Linked DNA regions of Homo sapiens: region 1 is linked to region 2. A link means that fine-mapping ties the variant in region 2 to the expression of a gene that starts in the linked region. Tissue or cell type: B cells. Region 2 holds a variant in brackets; the other region holds the start of a gene. All regions are shown on one strand. Distances are from middle to middle. Region 1 holds the start of LINC02397 (long intergenic non-protein coding RNA 2397). Region 2 overlaps LOC105369904 (a long non-coding RNA gene).

What was found. PIP is the estimated chance that this variant, and not a neighbour inherited with it, causes the effect. A credible set is the group of variants that fine-mapping cannot tell apart.
Region 1: it holds the start of LINC02397, and the variant in region 2 is the best candidate, but not a certain one, in a credible set for the expression of LINC02397 in B cells (Schmiedel 2018, PIP 0.71).

The regions. Positions count from the first base shown.
Region 1 is chr12:92,464,505-92,468,907 of GRCh38, forward strand. It overlaps LINC02397 (long intergenic non-protein coding RNA 2397), which reads left to right and starts at 2,175. Exons shown (of 2, transcript NR_144532.1): 1 at 2,175-2,498. RefSeq lists a silencer at 1,809-2,103 and enhancers at 1,816-2,323, 2,080-2,229, 2,430-2,519, 3,300-3,359.
Region 2 is chr12:92,512,021-92,516,423 of GRCh38, forward strand. LOC105369904 (a long non-coding RNA gene) reads left to right here. Exons shown (of 4, transcript XR_945210.3): 4 at 1-108. Among named protein-coding and RNA genes, the nearest start is that of LINC02397, 48 kb to the left of the region's middle. RefSeq lists a silencer at 4,320-4,403. The variant A/G (reference allele first, on the strand shown) is at 1,982.

The sequences.
Region 1 (4,403 bases), 48 kb before region 2:
GTTTGCTTTTGTTTTTCCTCCTTGAGCATTGCCATGGTTATTGATATTTATTAAATCAAATCTGCCACTGAAGCATATATAACCACTCAAGAATGAATTACAGCAAATATTTAACTGCCTGCCTGCCTTTGAATTGGTTAATCAGAATGAGTGATGCATTAGCTGGTTCAACTCCTTTCACCTGGAAAGATGGCTATCGATTCCCTTTATTGTGATTTAAAAGATTTGAGGAAAGTCTAAAAGCATTTCAAAAGATTTCAATAAGTAAGACATAATTCTGCTTTTCATAACCACTAAATGAAAAAAAAAACTAAATACAAAAAAGATTCTTCGAGTAAAATTCTGTCATTCTCCACTTTTTATTGTGTTAAAAAAATCAACTATAATATGAGTGAAAGTCAAGTTCTGCTGGTATGTATGAAATGAGAAGAGAGGTGCTGTAGGTTATTAATAACAGGGGATGTTTTGTACCTGTTCTGGAAGATGAATATGCATTTTTGTGTTGGAGCCAGTCCATAAGTCAAATTCCTTTAAAACAGGCAGAGGCCAGCCTTGTTCTGGCTGCAGCCTGCACGGCCAGAAAAACAGAGGAAGAAGCGCCTTCCACCAGCATGAAATGTTATCCACTTTGATATGTAAACATTCTTCCTTCACCTGAAGTTGATGTCAGGGTAACTAAAACACAAGAACTTGGTTGACTGAGCAGAAGCAATCTGTTGTATTCTTCTGTTTTTCAAAACCAGAGATAATCAAGGACTGTTATGTCAGATGCTAGCTGACCTAACTTTTGAGTGGAAAACGAACCAGGAATCTGAGATAACTGGATAGTCTCCGCATATTTTTAAAAAATCAGCATGTCTCTTGAAACTGCTCAGACTTAGCTGATTTTTGTAGTTGTTGTTGTTCTCTTTATAGTTTTTTTTCTTTTTTCTCTGTATTCCAGACTCCTGGCATTTAATCTATTGGGTGGGAATAAATGACGTAAATTGTACTCATATTTGCAAAAAGCCCAAAAAAGATGTTAAGGCTGTTAACAACAGACGTCTACGCTACAGTTGAAATGGGCTAGGTGAATTGAGACAGAATTCTATGAACATTTTATGAAGCTTTCCTTAAATTTCTAATTGAAAATTGCTACTGTTTGTGTTACTGTTGATTCATTTCATTTAAGTCTTGGTCTTGTAGATTCTATTGATACCCCATTCTTGGGGATGAAAAACAATGTTAAATGCGCACATTTGTTAGGAAAATGGGCTGGGTGGGAGACGGAAGGCTTTGGCCGCCATCCTAGGGCATTCCTGTGCATTGCGATGGTCAGCATTTCTGTATCTAAACATCGAAAAAGTACAATAAAAATACAGTATTATAATCTGGGACCACTATCATACACGCAGTCTTTCTTGACCAAAACATCCTTATGCCGTGCGTGGCTGTGCTGAGAAGGAGGAGCACTCGTCCTCTCCAAGCACATCCAATTTGCCTCAGTCCTCATGACTCCCGCCCTGTTACCAGAACTGAGCTCATTTGTTATTGAAGTTGCTTTTCTTATACCCAGCCCAGTTTTCCATTGATGCTTCCGCTTATTCTATGTAGGTATTTTCATTTATCACACAATATCCCTAGTCTAAGACTTCATTTGAGGAAAGAAAAAAAAAAAAACCTCTGCTGCTAAAAATAATTTGAAAACTCCTAGACAATAGGACCTTTCAAATCCCTTACAATTCTAACAACCAGTGAATTCATGCTTCACAGCCATTCAGATCTATACGTATGAAATACAAGACATATGTGTTCAACTTTCCTTCATCGCCTCCTTTAAACTTTCTTTTTTCTTTTTTGAGTCAGTCCCTGCAGGAACAGACCAAGTGAGCCCATTAAGAGAACAGTTCATTCCCACCTGCTACCTCGAGCCAGCCAACAATCTCAGCCTCACCACTCCATTCTTGATTATGTAGAACCATTCCAATCCTGAGTGACAGGATTTGCAAAGACAGCTGTTGGGCTCCACAAACATTTGGAGGAGGGGAAAATGTGAGGTTGGTTGCTACATTCTCCTACTTCTTTTTACTGAAAGGAACAGCTGCGATCTTCACATGTAAGATGAAGTAAACAAAAGCTGACAATGCCCAGCACCATTCAGCAGTAAGCATTCAAATGGATTTTTCCTCACCGCGTTTGCAGGCCCGGCACAGTCTCAGTTCCCCACAGCACAGAGAGGAAGCAAGGTCTTTGCATGCCCTGTTCACTTGGCCAAACATTGCCCTAGATGTGCAATTCAACCCATATAAAGCAAGCGTAATTCAAGAGCCCTGACTCTTTCACCATTTCATGATGGCTTATTACTCGCACACGGCATTGTCAGGTTCCAGCAACTCTGTGTGCAGCAGGCAGAAATGCAGTGTTTATCTCTGACAGGCAAACATTCTTAGGCTCATCGGCATGAGTATCCACGCTGAACTGGCTATCGGGGAAGTAGATCCCTGCATGGGAAAGTCAAGGTATGTTTAGAGGGACTCGATGATTCAACCCCATTGGCTGGTTCATTCCTTTTGTTTCCTCTGCCTTTTTATTTGCTTACACAGAAAACAGAGCATTCATTTATTTCTTTTCCCTCTCTCATCTCTATTAACCACTAGGGCCATCTGCCCATCTGAAACTGTCTTTGGCTGCATGGTTGTGAATCCAGGTGACAGTGAAAATGAAGAAGTGGTGATTGTCCCTGCATGTTTTCTCTGAAGGGTTAACTAAAAAAAAAAAAAAAAAAAGCCTTTGTGTCTGTTTCGAGTTCTCCAGTTGAAATACTGTACTCATTGAACTGCAAGAAATAAAACCTGCAAGTAGGCACTGTGCTAATGTAATAGAAATGTGTTAGACAGGGGCACTATTTCTTAAATATGCTTGAATTAAGCAAGTTCTTTTAAAAAGTGGGTGGGACTTTTGATGTTTTACATAGTTATATTTTCAATTTCTTGTGCTCAGTTTAAAACTCAAGATTCTTTGTTTCTGTGTGTGTCATTAGGGCAGGTGTTGGATGACAAGTAAATGCACTGAAAAATGAAAAAAAAAGATTTGTGCCCTAACCTCCATGAATTTGGTGACTTAATATATCCATACAGATCTGACTTTTAATCAAAGGTGCTCACAGGTGGGGTAAGGGATAAGGAGGAATTTGTCTACAGGATCCTTTTATCCTAAGTTGCCTTACAACATCCAATTGTGTTACCGTTTTTTTTTTTTTTTTTACAAACCCATTGCTAGGCTAAGAAGTATTGATTCCATCTAGTTAAACATGTCGAGTGAGAGGAAGTGATCAATGGATTACTTCTTCAAAACATTTATCCCCCCTAGTGGAATCCTCTGATTTTTATAACATTAAAGAGCCAGGTATAGGAGTTGGGAGAAGAATTTAAAATTTGAAATGTCTTCTTTTTTCAACTCTGTTCATGAAAACTCTAGTTAATGCATGTGATTTCCTGGGTCTCCCTCTCTACTTCCCTCCATTATCACCACCTTTTGTTGCTGCTGGGGCTGTGGGTGCCCTGAAGGAGCATGAGATGGCCTTCCTCAGATATCTGGGTTTTAAATTCAGTTCGTATCTCTTAAGTGAAGTGGGTAGGGCCAAAAATGACTCACTGCCCAGTGGTGCCTGGAAACATTATCAGCAAAGACATTCACCTAGGGAGAAAATAAACACAGAATTCTCATATGGGCCCATCTTTCCAACCATCTCCTGGACTTTGGTAGTCTTTTCTGAGCCAGATATCTCTCTAAAGTCACTTGCTGTCAGACCTTTTTGTCTCATATTTAGGAATGGCTGAAGTTCTTTATAAATCCCAGATGAAACAGGAGGAAAACTACTTTGAAATGATCATTTCCATGATCTCTAAAATGCAACAAACCGTATTTCTTAAGATTAACGGATGCGAGCCTATGACAGGTTCAATGTGGGACCAACTCAAGGGAAATTGATGACCGAATTATTAAAAGGCATTCATTACATCGCAGTTTCACCTGAAGAGGGGGTGTCCCCCAGTAGTGCTTCTGCAGCAGAATTGCTTAGAAACTGCAGAACATCCACAAGGCAAGCACCCCAGGCCATTGTGTCTGACTGTCTTTCAAATAGAGGAATGGCTAGTTGCCATTTGCTGAGGGCATCTCCTGCACTGAGAACTGTGTGCATATATGGATGATATCGCCGAGACTCACAAGTATGCAAGATAGAAACTAGGTGCATTTTTTTCAGATTAGGAACTTGAGAATGGAAGATAAACTGAGAAGGGGAGCAGGGGAGGATAGGGAGAGATTGGGCAACGGTTAAGAAGTTACAGTTAAATAGGAATAAATCCTGGTGCTCTATTGCACAGCAGGGTGCCTGTGGTTGACAACATTGCATTGTCTATTTC
Region 2 (4,403 bases):
GATGTGCCAAGAGGGCTCTATTTTAGAGAAGGAAAACTAACAATAGATTCCCGCCAACTAAAAGGGGATTTCTTTTCCTGGGAAGGAAAAAATAAATGGAAAAAAAGATCTTTATCTGGTGATTTGTACTGAAATGAGAATAGTCAGAGCTCATCATCATATCATTTTTAATAGTAACGTCTCATAGAGAAACATAAAAGAAACTTATTAAAGACAAAAATAGTTTATACAAACTTTTTGCTAAGCATATAAAGTTGAATGCATAACATTCCTTCCTCCTCCAGTCTACCTTCTCCATTCTTGTTTCATTTCCTTTTTTTGTCTTTTTTCCTTATCCTTACCCAAAATATACTCTAGGCCATTTTGGAAGATGCAAGGATGATAGATATGGGTATAATAAATAAATATATCCTTTTATGTATATTTATAAATATATTTTTACATTTTCAAAGCAAAATATAAATTAAACATACACATGTTTCTAGGAGTTCATTCCATACCTCTACAATAGTAAAAGAACGTGCTTAACTGAAAACCTCTAAAGCTTTAAAAATTCTTTGAAAGCCAGTTGAAATTTGAGGGGCTTTGACACTTAGTTTTAAGAATACCAAAGTGCATTTCCATTTCCCGCAGGGTTAGCTGGCCATGAACAACTGCAGTTCAGTTTCATAAGCTTTCCTTGATGCTTGCTAGGACCATAAATTCCACCTTCACATACAATTTGCAGTTTAAAGGTATGAATTATCTTACTAAAGAGCCTTTTTGCTATGAGCTTTCTATTCCAAGGTGAATCCCAGTTAAATGCCCCCTCCTGCCCCAATATTCTTGAATTTGAATTGTGGTGCACATTACCAAGGATTACTCCATATTTTCAGGCAATATTGCTATCCTCCTATATGTGCTCAGTCTAAAATATTCAATGAAAAGTGTATATGCAAAGCTAGCTTTACTATTTAATCACTAAAGTTACCTTTGGGAAGCTGAGTATTGATACACAATGCAGAAATATCAATGATCAGTCCCTGAAACACATTTAAACCAGAAGTAGGAGCAGTTAGATTTATGTACCATGATGTCTGAATTTGCAAAGGTTTTCTGGTAATCTGAAGAGTTGTATTGAGTTACTCTCAGCAACTATTTTACTTTATTTTGTAGCTTTGTAATATAGTAAAAGAGCCCTGGGTGAGGAGTTAGGAACTTAGGGATTGCTAAAAGGATTTTATATGCAATATTTTTGAAATCTAACAAAAAATATAAACAGTTAACAATGTCATGACCATGAATATAATGAACGACTCTTTGTTCTGAATTGCTCTAGTCCAGTATAAAATGTTTATAATTAGGTTGATCTTCACAGAAATTCAAAGTAAATTATGTGTACACGCAGGAGAGAGCTGACTTTCCATAATGGCTCTGTAGTTTAAAATCATCAAAAAAGGGAGTATTGCAAAATGTACCACTCCATAAATACTACAGTTCATCAATTAAGCAATACACTAAACATGTAATGATGATAATTTTCCTGTGTATGTCAACCAGGAAACACACAAGCTGGTTGTTAAGTTGCTTCATCATAAGAATAATGATTGTGTGAGTGCTTGGCTAAGTCATTCTCTCTCCCAGCTTAAACATTAATGGGAAAATAATGGAATTATGGAGCTGGCTCTTTTCTTGAAAGCCAGATGTCAATGTCTTAGGATATCTGTGCTATTAAAAACCTCAAATACCCAATTTGTAACTTTAGATGACCAAGTCACTGAAGGTTAGAACTAAGTGGAATTTTAGACATCTTGTAGTTCATTACTTTCATTTTAATGATATGAACACTGAGGACCAGATAGACAGAGGAACTTGTTCAACATCACAAATCTAGCAATAACAAACATATAGAAAGGACTTTGCCCTCATCTATTGGTTCCTAGTCCAGAGCTTTCCTTTCTGCCATGTCACTTGGAAAATAAACACCATTTTCCAAAACCAA[A/G]CACAGGAGTAACAAGCATAAAATGTCAACCTTTCAATTAGGATTCAAAACTATAGAATAAACCTTTGAAGTTTCCAATCTAGTAGCAATTTAAAAAGTGAAATCCTACTAGAAATGCCTCAAGTAGGCTCTTCTTCCTCCCGTGCTATGGGGAAAAAAGACTTGCTACTCATGTAGTAAGCTTAATGTTAAGAGAACTCCATAGTTTATTTTCTACTCAGAGTAAACTTGTATTACTCTCACTCATTTGAAATATCCTTAAAGCCAAAGGATTGTACATGAGGTACAAAATAGAAAGACAGAACTTTATAGTAAAAGTTTTTCTCTAAACCAGAGTTGCTGACTTCGTTTGACTTTTCTTTTATCAATTTTAATACATTCATTTTCCTATTACAAAATCTGCATTATGCTGGAACTATTGCTTATGTGTATATGATACACACACAAAACTGAGTCTTATAAACACCCTTGAAATAATTCAGACACACAAAAAATTGCTTTTTGGTCAAGTGACACCTCAAGGGGCCACAGACTCAGTGCTGCCACAGTTCCACACAATGTTTGTTGTTCATGTATTATTCACTTTTTGGAAACTGCCTTTTGAGCAATGAGTTTACACAATTAAATTTGATTTAATTATAGCCACACCCTGTGTTTCACCAAAAGCCTTATCACTTTTGTCACCCATATTTTTGTTTAATCTCAACTCCTGATTATTTCTTCCTATTAAAGAAATAAAATGTATCTTAAAAGGGCAATGATCTGTCACCAATGAAGATCACTTGGAAATAATATTAATCAGGCTCTATAAAATATTTCAAAAAAGGCCAGGTGCACCTGTAATCCCAGCACTTTGGGAGGCCGAGGCGGGCAGATCACAAGATCAAGAGATCAAGACCATCCTGGCCAACATGGTGAAACCTCATCTCTACTAAAAATACAAAATTTAGCTGGGTGTGCTGGTGCACACCTGTAGTCTCAGCTACTTGGGAGGCTGAGGCAGGAGAATTGCTTGAACCCGGGAGGCGGAGGTTGCAGTGAGCCGAGATCGCACCACTGCACTCCAGCCTGGTGACCTAATGAGAGTCTCAAAAAAAAGAAGAAGAAGAAAATAAATAAGTTTTTTTTTAGATTTTTAAAATTGATACACAGTAATTGTACATATTTATGGAGTACGTGTGATGTTTTGATATGTGCATACAATGTGTAATGATCAAATTAGGGTAAAGATATCCATCAGCTCAAACATTTATCATTTTTTCTCGTATTTCAAAGAAAATTTGATTAACTATGGGCAAGAACATTGGAAAAAGCACATGAACATTGGAAAAAGCAAAAAGATTGGAAAAAGCCTTCCAATCTTTACTACAGGAAGAGACTACTTTCATCAGTATGGACACGTCTGGCACACTTCTTATACATCAGTCTTTTTGACTTGAATAATCTACAACATATAACTTATGTTTCCACAGGTGTATTTCTAAACATTTCTTATAGGGTGGTTTGACACCAAAGGTGAAAGAAGTCCTGCTACATGTCCTAGACTATTACTTCTCTTATTTCTTGAGCAAAGAGGGCAGAAATATTCAAGCTGTGTATTAGTCTGTTCTTGCACTGCTATAAAGAAATGCCTGAGACTGGGTAATTTATAAAGAAAAGAGGTTTAATTGGCTCATAGTTTCACAGACTTCACTACAGGAAGCTTAGGGCTTCTGCTTCTGGGGAAGTTCAGGTTCGCTCCAGGAAACATAGCAGCTTCTGCTTCTGGAAATCCTCAGGGAGCTTTTTTACTCATGGCAGAAGGCAAAGTGGGAGTAGGCATCTTACATGGCAGAAGCAGGACCGAGAGAGAGAGGCAGAGAGGTGCCACACACTTTTAAATGACTAGATCTCACGAGAACTTACTCACTATCACCAAAGGTGAAATCCACCCCCATGATCCAATCACCTCCCACCAGGCCCCACCTCCAACACTGGGGGGTTACCATTCGACATGAGATTAGGGTGGGGACACAGATCCAAACCATATCAAGCTGTAATAATTTTCATTTGCTCCATGCAACCACAATGCTAGCAAGTATCAATTTATTAATGCTGAAATATGAACATTCAAACATATATGACTATCATGTACTCTGTGTGTGTGTGTGTGTGTGTGTGTGTGTGTGTGTGTGTGAGAGAGAGAGAGAGAGAGAGAGAGAGAGAGAGAGAGAACAGGGGGTGGACAGTAGTTATCTCTGCTTAATTATCCTCAATAAAAATGTTTCTTCAACCTGCTTCAAGGCAATCATCCCAGCTAACCTGCTCTGAAGCCCTTTGGGGGCATTTGAAGAGGAGAGAAGGCCCTTTGTTCCCCCTTTCAACACTGGGCTAGAGTCTCCTTACCTCTCTCAGATACTCTGACTCAGTACAGGCTGCAGAC